Linked DNA regions of Homo sapiens: region 2 is linked to region 1. A link means that fine-mapping ties the variant in region 1 to the expression of a gene that starts in the linked region. Tissue or cell type: whole blood. Region 1 holds a variant in brackets; the other region holds the start of a gene. All regions are shown on one strand. Distances are between the middles of the regions.

Region 1 (5,385 bases):
GAGATCTTGCCATGTTGCCTAAGCTTGTCTTGAACTCCTGGGCTAAAACAAGCCACCCACCTCAGCCTCCCAAAGTGCTAGGATTATAGGCATGAGCCACCATGCCTGGCTCTATCAAATCTTCAAACCTTATCATAGTATACCACTGCTATTTAAGCTATTGCAGATTAGATTGGACCATATGAAATTGTCATTTTTTCAGTAACAGCTTTTTTGAGAAATAATTCACATACCCTACAATTCACACACTTAAAATATACAATTTGGCTGGGCACGGTGACACCTCTTGAAACCAGGGGTTCGAGGCTGCAGTGAGCTGTGATCATCCCACCGCACTTTAGCCCGGGTGACACAGTGAGATGCTAACTCTAAAAAAATAAAGCATACAGCCAGGCGCAGTGGCTCACGCCTGTAATCCCAGCACTTTGGGAGGCTGAGGCAGGCAGATCATGAGGTCAGGAGATCGAGACCATCCTGGTTAACATGGTGAAACACCGTCCCTACTAAAAATACAAAAAATTAGCTGAGCGTGGTGGCGGGCACCTGTAGTCCCAGCTACTCAGGAGGCTGAGGCAGGAGAATGATGTGAACCCAGGAGGCAGAGCTTGCAGTGAGCCGAGATCGCGCCACTGCACTCCAGCCTGGGTGACAGTGCGAGACTCTGTGTCAAAAATAAAATAAAATAAAATAAAATAAAATAAAATAAAATAAAGCATCCAATTCAATGGTGTTTAATACATTCACAGAGTTGTGCAACCATCACCACAATCAATTTTAGAATATTTTATTCACCACCTAAAAAACCCACATTCTTTAACTATCACCCCCATCTCCTGATCACTCACTCCCGGCCCCCAGCAACCACTAATCTACTTCCTCTCTCTATGGATTTACCTATTCGAGACATTTCATATAAATGGAATGACATTATATGTTGTTCTTTGTGTCTGGTTTATTTCACTTACCATAATGTTTTCAAGGGCCAACCATGCCATAGCATGTGTCAGTACTCAACTCCTTTTTATGCCAAATATTAGTCCATTGAATGGATGTGCTAAATTTTGTTAGCTAGATATGGTAGTGCACATCTGTAGTCTGTTACTCAGGAGGCCGAGGTAAGAGGATCACTTGAGCCCAGGAGATTGAGGCCAGCCTAGGCAACATAGTAAGATCCCATCTCAAAAAATAAATTAATATATAAAAACAAACATCATCTCTAGAGAGACAATTCCAGTGAAAAAATAAATTTTATTTATACCTTCATTCATTGATGGACATTTGAGTTACTTCTACTTTTTCCCTATTATGAATAAAACTGTTATAAACATTTATATGCAAGTTTTTGTGTGGATATATGCTTTCATTTCTCTTGAGTATACACCTAGAATTAGAGTTGGTGGGTAATATGGTAAACTCTATGTTTAGATTTTTTTTTGGCCGGGCGTGGTGGCTCACGCCTGTAATCCCAGCACTTTGGGAGGCCAAGGTGGACAGATCACCTGAGGTCAGGAGTTCAAGACCAGCCTGGGCAACATGGCGAAACCCCACCTCTACAAAAGATAGAAAGATCAACTGGGCGTGGTGATGCGTACTTGTAGTCCCAGCTACTTGGGAGGCTGAGGCAGGAGGATCACTTGAGCCCAGGAGGTCAAACCTGCAGTGAAATGTGTTCACACCACTGCACCCAGCCTGGGTGATGGAATGAGACCTTGTATCAAAAAAAAAAAAAAAAAAAATTTTTTTTTGGAGACAAAGTCTCCTTCTGTTGCTCAGGCTAGAGTGCAGTGGCACGATCTCAGCTCACTGCAAACTTCGCCTCCTAGGTTCAAGCAATTCTCCTGACTCAGTCTCCAAGTAGCTGGGGCTACAGGTGTGCACCACTGCACCTGGCTAATTTTTGTATTTGGTAGAGACTGGTGGGGGGCGGGAGGGCATTGCATGTGTGTATTCATATTTTTTAACATACATTGTGACATGATTCTGTGGAACAAATGCAGTGATATAAAATGCTTTTGAAAATTATAACATTAAGGCCAGGCATGGTGGCTCACGCCTGTAATCCAGCACTTTGGGAGGCCAAGGCGGGCAGATCACCTGATGTCAGCCTGGCCAACATGGTGAAACCCCATCTCTACTAAAAATACAAAAAGTAGCTGGGTGTGGTGGCACACACCTGTAATCCCAGCTACTCAGGAGGCTGAAGCAGGAGAATCACTTGAATCTGGGAGGTGGAGGTTACAGTGAGCCAACATCACACCACAGCACTCCAGCCTGGGTGACAGAACAAGACTCCGTCTCAAAAAAAAAAAAAAAAAAAAAAAAAAAAAAGAAAGAAAAAAATTATGACATTAAGTGAGTATAAGGGGGTATATTATTTACGTACTCACTTTTGTAGCAAATCCCCCAGCTGTGCACTTTTCTGGGTGCATGCAATACTTTCACAAGTAAATAAATATCTTTATTTAAAACAGTAATAACAGAAAATCTCAGCACACTAGGGCACGATGGTTCACACCTGTCCCAGCACTTTGGGAGGCTGAGGCAAGAGGATCACTTGAGGCCAGGAGTTTAAGACCAGCATGGGCAACATAACGAGACCCTGTCTCTACAAAAAAATTTAAAATGAACTTAAATTTTTTTTAATTTTTAAAAAGCTTAGCGCAAGTGGAGTCATTCTAGAAAGGTGATGCTAATGATTAGTACCTATATGGTATTTACTATGAACCAATCACTGTTCAAAACACCTTATTTATATTTATTCACTTAAATCCAGCAACAACCCTTTGAGCTAGATGCTATTATTAATTTTGTTTTACAGAGGCAGCAACCAAGGCACAGAGAGGCTAAGAAACTTGCCCAGATCACACAGTTAATGCATGGCACATCTAGAATTTCTAGAGTCTAGAACCAGCCAGGATGGCCTCTCAAACTCTATCTTATACAGACTATCTATTGATATTAGATGAATTTTTTTTTTTTTTTTGAGACAGAATCTCACTGTGTCACCCAGGCTGGAGTGCAGTGGCACGATCTCAGCTCACTGCAGCCTCCAACTCCCGGGTTCCAGTGATTCTCCTGCCTCAGCCTCCCAAGTAGCTGGGATTACAGGCACATGCCACCATGCCCAACTAATTTTTGTAATTTTAGTAGAGATGGCGTTTCGCCATGTTGGCCAGGCTGGTCTCGAACTCCTGACTTCTGGTGATC[C/T]GCCTGCCTTGGCCTCCTAAAGTGCTGGGATTACAGGCATGAGTCACCGCACCCAGCCTTAGGTGAATTCTTAATACTGGTTAAATGAGAATAACTACATGACCTTTCTTAGAGACTACAAGAATATTTAACAAAATTCAATATCCAGTATTGATATGATAAAAACATATTTAAGTTTAAAAATAGCATCTTGTTTAATGTTGCACACTAGAAGCATTTTCCATTAAAGTCAGGAACAGGGTAAGAGAAATAATATTTCCACTTATTTAATATTATTCTAGGTATATAAAGATAAAAAATACAAATTTTAAGAATTACAAAGTGGAGACAACATAATGACTATTTGCAGGTAATATGATTGCATATCTAGCCAATCCAAGAGTACTCCTGGAAAGTCTCTCATAAACAATGAGTTAAGTCAGTAATGTAGTTGGTTACACAATCAACAGCACTTCTATGTTTCAGGGAAAAAGCTAGGAAACAAAATGGAAGAAAACCTTGTACTTAAAATAGCACCAACGCTCACACTTACAACATCAGCAACAACAAAAATGTAGGAAAATGAAAGAAGAAATAAATGAAAATACACACTTTGTTCATCAATTAGAAGATTTCATGATGTAAAGATGCACATTCTCCCTAAATTAAACTTAACCTTTAATTTTATATCAATAAAAATACATTATGAGGTTTTTTTGGAAGTAGCCTCATTGAGTCTAAAGTTCAAATGGAAAAATAAACAAGTGAGGCTAGCCAGGAAAATTTTGAAAAAGGAAAGTAATAAAAAAGAATTAACCCTCCTAGGTATTGAAGCACATTATAAAGCTACATTTATATTTTTAAAAGTTTAGTACTTGGCCGGGCGCAGTGGCTCACGCCTATAATCCCAGCACTTTGGGAGGCCGAGGTGGGTGGATCACGAGGTCAGGAGATCGAGACTATCCTGTCTAACACGGTGAAACCCCATCTCCACTAAAAATACAAAAAATAAAATTAGCCGGGCGTAGTGGCGGGCGCCTGAAGCAGGAGAATGGCGTGAACCCAGGAGACGGAGCTTGCAGTGAGCCCAGATCGCGCTACTGCACTCCAGCCTGGGTGACAGAGCGAGACTCTGTCTCAAAAAAAAAAAAAAAAAAAAAGTTTCGTACTTGTGCATGAAAAGAAAAGCAGATTAATGAAGCAGATTAGAATCTAGAAATAGACCCAAATACATTTGAGAAGCTACTAAATGGTAAAACCATATTTGAAATCAGAGAGAAAAAAATAAAATTAGGCAGTGCAGTAATTGCTGTTAGAGTAATTGGCTAGCCATTTGAAAAACTTAAGTTAAAGCTGGATGCCTGTCTGATTCCTTACGCCAAATAAATTCCAGACAGATAAACGATGTATTTATTTATTTATCTATTTTTATTTATGTATTTATTTATTTATTTATTTATTTTGAGACAGGGTTACTCTGTCACCCAGGCTGGAGTGCAGTAGCACGATCTCAACTCATTGCGGTCTCTGTCTCCAGGGTGCAAGAGATCCTCCTTCCTCACCCTCCTGAGTAGCTAGGGCCACAGGTGCATGCCACCACACTTGGCTAATTTTTGTATTTTTAGTAGAGACAGGGTTTCAACATATTGGCCAGGCTGGTCTCAAACTCCTGACCTCAAGTGATCCACCTGCTTTGGCCTACCAAAGTGCTAGGATTACAGGCATGTGCCACCGCATCCAGCCAGATAAACAATTTAAATGTAAATAAATAAAACAGGATGAAAGGGGAACATGGGCGCACACACACACACACACACACACACACACATCTTAAATAAGAGAAAATCTTTCTAAGCCAGACACAAAACTCAGATGCTAAAAAGAAAAAATTAGCTACATAAAATTCAAAATAGCTGCACAGTATAAAAATACCATAGGCTAAATTAAAAGGTAGGTAACAAGCTAGGAGAAATGTTTCTACAATTCATGCAACAGACGAAGAATAAATGTCCTTAATAAACAAAGAGCTCTTATAATTAAAAAGAAAAAATATGAATAGTTTTTAAATTGGGCAAAGAATGATGTAGCTCACAAAAAAAGAAATATAAATTGCTCATAAATACATAAAAACACACAAAAAATTTCTCAACCTTACTAGTGACTAAAGACATACAAATTAAAGTGAGATGAGTTGGCAAA
Region 2 (5,385 bases), 25 kb after region 1:
AGTTTCACTGTTGTTGCCCAGGCTGGAGTGCAATGGTGTGATCTCAGCTCACTGCAACCTCTGCCTCCTGGGTTCAAGCGATTCTCCTGCCTCAGCCTCCCAATTAGCTGGGATTACAGGCATGCACCACTATGCCTGGCTAATTTTTTATTTTTACTACAGGCCGGGTTTCCTCATGCTGGCCAGGCTGGTCTCAAACTCCTGACCTCAGATGATCTGCCCACTTCGGCCTCCCAAAGTGCTGGGATTACAGGCATGAGCCACCGCGCCTGGCCAAGAAATCATATCTTATTAGCTTTGCTGGAGCTGGGAATTAGTTCCAGGCTTTCTCAACCTTGGTGCTATTGGCATTTTGGTTCAGATACTCCCGTGTTGTAGGGGACTGTCCTACGCATCGTAGAATATTTAGTAGAATCCCTGGTCTGTAGCTATCAGATACCAATCAGTAGCATCCAGTGTGACAACCAAAAAGTTCATTGCTAAATGTCCCCAGGGGTAGGGATGGGGGCAACATTGTCCCAATTAAGAATCACTGAGTCATTAAAACCTAAAAAAGTCTAATAAAAAAAAAATCAGCCAATCTTAACAGCTGTGCAAATGTTGATAAATATGACTGTTTTCATTGCCTTATGTTGTTGTGAAAAATTATTCCTAAACCTGGTATGAAAGCATATTGTGCCATTACGTATATGTTCATATTTTTAAACTCCTAATGAAACACCATAGTAACTTTTAAACATTTTAAGTAGAAAGGATTATGAAAGAAAAACAAATATGTGTGTAGGTAAATGAACCTCAGGGATGATAGCAGGAAAAGGAAAGTCACTAGCATTTATTCGGTGCCCACTACATTTTATATTTTGTAAACCTGATTTTTTTTTTCAAAAAAGTGTTTTTTATATGCTCATCGCAAAAAAGAAAAAAACAGATACACTAAAAGAAGAAAATGAAAAAAAGTCATAATCAGTTAACGTTTTGGTGCATATGTTTCATGACTTTCTGTGCATTCATTCACTAGCTTAACCTATCGGAGAGGACAGGAACCCAACATGTCTAGGGAAGTTTTGTTTGTTTTTAACGGGAGAGATTCAAGCATGTTGTAAAGCCAGTTGAAGCTGGGCGCGGTGGCTCACGCCTGTAATCCCAACACCTTGGGAGGCCGAGGGGGGCGATCACCTGAGGTCAGGAGTTCAAGACCAGCCTGGCCAACATGACGAAACCCCGTCATTACTAAAAATACAAAAATAGCTAGGCGCAGTGGTGCGTGTCTGTAATCCCAGCTACTTGGGAGGCTAAGGCAGGAGAATTGCTTGAACTCGGGAGGCGGAGGTTGCGGTGAACGGAGATCGCGCCACTGCACTCCAGCCTGGGAGACAGAGCGAGACTCCGCCTAAAAAAAATGATAATATAATAAAAAAATAAAAAAAAAAGCCAGTTGAAGAACTTAGGTTAGAAAAAGGAGAATGGGATGATCCACAGAGTGGGGTTTCTGAGAAAGTAAAGGTTATAGATTTTAAGCACAGAGGAGGAATTATCTTTAAATTAGAAGAAAAAGCTTGATGAGAGGTTGGAAAGAACACACGCAAGTGAAAATATGTATCTTACTGTATCTACATGTATGTGTATTGTTGTATCTACCTGCAGATATGTATGTCTTATTGTATCTACATGTAGGTATGTATGTATACTTTTAATGTACACATATGCATCTGTGTCTACATATATACATATCTTAGTCTATCTACATGTATGTATCTTACTGTGTCTACACTAAGATGTTTCTTACTGTGTGAGCTACGTTGGAACCTGCTTTTTCATTTATTCTATTGCAACCATTTCCTCCATGCCGGGATTATTCCTCCACATCATTTTTACAGTGTCCTAATACATGCCAGTAGCTGTTTTTGAAGCCATCTAGTAGCGCTGGACATTTTGGCTGTTTGCAATTTTTCACCATCATCAATACCACAGCTTAGTATCTCGAAGGTGAAATATTTGCAGATACCCAGAATTATTTCCTGAGCAGAAAATCCGTGCAGGCGGAACTGCTGAGTCAAAGGTCGGTGGATAAAAATCGCTTTTAAGCCTCACAACCCGCCTCAGGTATGCATTCTTTACCTGAGGAGGAACAGAGAAGCAGAGAGGTTAAATAACTGGCCCAAGGTCAAAAATAATTAGAAGTGGCTGAATTCAAAAGCCGCGCGGGCTCATCAGGCTGCAGTTGGGGTAAAATTTGCGTTTTAGGCAATTTTTTTTTTTTTTTTTTTTGGCGTGTGTCAGTGGGGGAGGGGCCGGGCGGCGGGTAGGAAACTTGTGTCGCAGCAAAGAAGGAGGAGGAGGGGAGGGACTCCCCTCCTCGGTCAGACCGGAGCCGGCCGCACCGAAAAAGGTTGGACTCGGGACTCCGCAGGCCCCCCCAGCCACTCCGCGGGGCGCCTCGGAGGCTGTGACCTCCAGGGAGGTCCGGCTGGGTGCAGCGTGACACGCCGGGGCGGTTGCCAAGGACCTGCCCAATCTGCGGGTCCAGTTGCTAGGGCCTCCATCTTGGGGGCCAGTGGCCGTGGCGCCCCCGGAAGGGGTTGCCGAGTGGGGCATTCACTTCCGGTCTGGGGCCTGCGGCGGCGGCGGTGTCGGCGGCGGCGGCGGCGGCGGCGGCGGCGGCGGCAGCGGGTCGGTGTAGAAAATGGCGCTGGTGCAGCGGCTCGGGCCTCTCCCCGCGGCGCTGCGGAGGGCTTGAGGCTCGCGAGCCTCCTTCGCCGCGCCCCACTTGCTCGTGCACTTTACACACATGAGGTGAGCGGAACAAGGGCCTCCCTCCGGGCGGGAGGAGCCGCGGGCGCTGCCGCAGGGCCCGCAACCCGCGGCGGCGGCAGCAGAGGCGGCGGCGCCGGGCGTCCCCGAGACTTCGGGCCTCGGCGGGAGGGCGCAGGCTGCGTTGCTGCGGAGGCCGAGCGGGCGGCCCGGGGGAGCCTCGCTGCGCCGCGCCGCGGGGGCCAGGCCGGGGTTGCGCCTCGCCCGCGCCGCGGGACCGCAGTCCGGGCTGCAGCCCCGCAGCTTTGTGAGTCCCCCTCCCCCCGTCCTCTCCCCTCCCCCATCCGGCCCCGGCGCGAGCCTCTGCCGCAGCAGCTCCGTTTTCACGCGCATCTCGTTTTTGTGTGTGTGTTTTTGTTTTGTTTTTGTTTTTGTTTTTTTGTTTCAGAGAATTGGAAGCTAAAGCTACCAAAGACGTAGAAAGAAATCTTAGCAGGTAAGATGGGCGAGCTTTCCGTCTCCCGCCCCACGATAATCGTATATTTCTACTCCGATTCGCCTTTTCTGGGTTGAGAAGTTCCCCCGTGACATTTTCTTCCGCACCCGGAGAGCAGACATTCGGGAGAAGCGGCCTGGGGGAATACTGGAGGGATTGCGGGGAGATGCGTAATTACGCGTGTGTTTCTTTCTTTAAAAAAAAAAAAAAAAAGCGCAAAGCAATTCTTGTAAACTTAGTTAAAGCATTCTCACCCTTTTAGAATTTAATTAGGGGACTTGTGCATTAATTACTATTGTAAATGGTTGCAGGCATTGTGTGACTCATGATTGAGGCGGCCCTTATGGCGGGCTGTCAAACTGTTTTGGCTTCCCCGTTATTACTTTGTAGCTCAAATTGTTGCTTTTATAAAAAGATACTATGTGTTCGCATTCCCCCCCGCCCCCCCCCCCCCCCCATACATTGTAGTCAGGCGGATTCTGTTGCATTGGACACAGTTTTGTCCTTGAACTTTACCAAGCATAAGCTGCGTTTTGTTTTCCTTCGAAACTCCATTTCTGTCCATGTTCGGTGTGTGCTCTTTTTATCAGCTGGTAAAATAATTAAAAATCTTTTCTCCAGAAGAGGTTATCGTTCCTGTTGGGCCCTGCTGCTTTTGCATCACCGTGAAGGGAGAATTTTTTTTTTTTTTTAAACGATGTCTTTATGGAATGGAAATATTTAGCTTCATTGAGCTGTAATTGCTTAAGCATCAAGGAATTGTACTGTATTTAACTCCTTTTCACATTCATTTTCTTTCCTACCGTCTTTTCCTTTCTTATTCCCCTTTTTCTTTTGCATCATATTGGGACACTCAGGGAAACTTAGCCAATTAACCAAATCCGTGAATAGCTTTCTTTTTTTCTTTTTTTTCACTTGTTGAAAATAAAATGAAATTTCTCCTATCTCAGGTTTTAATGTAGTTTGCTCTTGATGATTGCGGGTTTTAGGTTTACATTGGGGTTTTTAACACTCACATTTCAAATCGTCTGAATATTTTGCACCGCGTAGAATTGTTCCAAATTGCTGGCCTATTGAGTTTCATAAGATACTAATCTGTTCAGGTGATCGTTAAAGAATGTGTTCAGATGGTGAAGGATAGGCATCATTGGTTTACCCAGTAAGGGATTCTCTGTTACTCAAAATAATTATGGGATCATTTAAAGGAAATTAAGTCTGACATCACTGACTATTTGTGGTATATTTACATAAATTTTGTCAAAATCTAGTAAGGAAATGTTAAGATATGAAACCATTAAAGAAAACAGGTTGAGCCATTAAGGTGTAATATCAGCAGAACAGAGCTTAGAGGTCTGTTTCTCCTTCCATTTTTGTTTTATCAGGTAACTATATCAGTATAATTCCTATGAAGGTGCTCTAGTACTTAATTAAAAATTGTCTGTGCCACAGGTATAATTTTAATATTAGGTAGAACTCGAGTCTGGGTTGGCTATTTATCAGAGTTTGAATTCCAGCTCTGCTACTTGCAATATGACCTTGACTCTTGGCAAGTCACTTAGCCTCTCTGTCCAATCTATAAAACGAGCGGCGTGGGCCAGCCAGTTGCTGAGGTCTGTTAGGCCCTTTGGGTTACATAAAAGGAGTAAAGTGCTGTCCGTGTTCACAGAGGGCATGTACAGTCTAGTAGAAAGACTATCATAAATGCATAAATAACAGTAGTACTAGGTAGATGACGTAGGAATCAAAAGATACCATCCCATTCATGTGCTTGAGAATATTCAGTCGGTCAGAAGGCATGAAAGGAAAAACAAATATCAAAGAGATTGTAAGGCAGTGTGTACTAAGGATCCAATGAGAGGGGAGCATTTCTTGCAGGTTAAAAGTGTTCTGAGGAAGGAGAGAGGTGATTAGGTGGGCAGATGCTTCCTTCATCTCCATCTCTAGCTGTGTTTCCTTTTTCACAAAAAAGAATGTATCTGTCTTTACCCATAGTGCTCTCTCCAGGAAATCAAGGCATTGTATTCATTGAGTAACCATTTTTTGAGCATTTTCGATATTTCAACTGTGGGACTGGGCACTAAGCCAGGGAAGAATGTAAGTAGTTAAATTTATTGATTGCTTACTATGTGCCTGGCACA

Evidence for each region. PIP is the estimated chance that this variant, and not a neighbour inherited with it, causes the effect.
Region 2: it holds the start of TNRC6A, and the variant in region 1 is fine-mapped to the expression of TNRC6A in whole blood (TOPMed, PIP 0.98).

What each region holds. Positions count from the first base shown.
Region 1 is chr16:24,702,367-24,707,751 of GRCh38, forward strand. It overlaps a transcript of TNRC6A not described here. Among named protein-coding and RNA genes, the nearest start is that of TNRC6A, 25 kb to the right of the region's middle. The variant C/T (reference allele first, on the strand shown) is at 3,208.
Region 2 is chr16:24,727,054-24,732,438 of GRCh38, forward strand. It overlaps TNRC6A (trinucleotide repeat containing adaptor 6A), which reads left to right and starts at 2,598. Exons shown (of 25, transcript NM_014494.4): 1 at 2,598-2,793; 2 at 3,200-3,247. The coding sequence starts at 2,789. RefSeq lists a silencer at 2,627-2,936.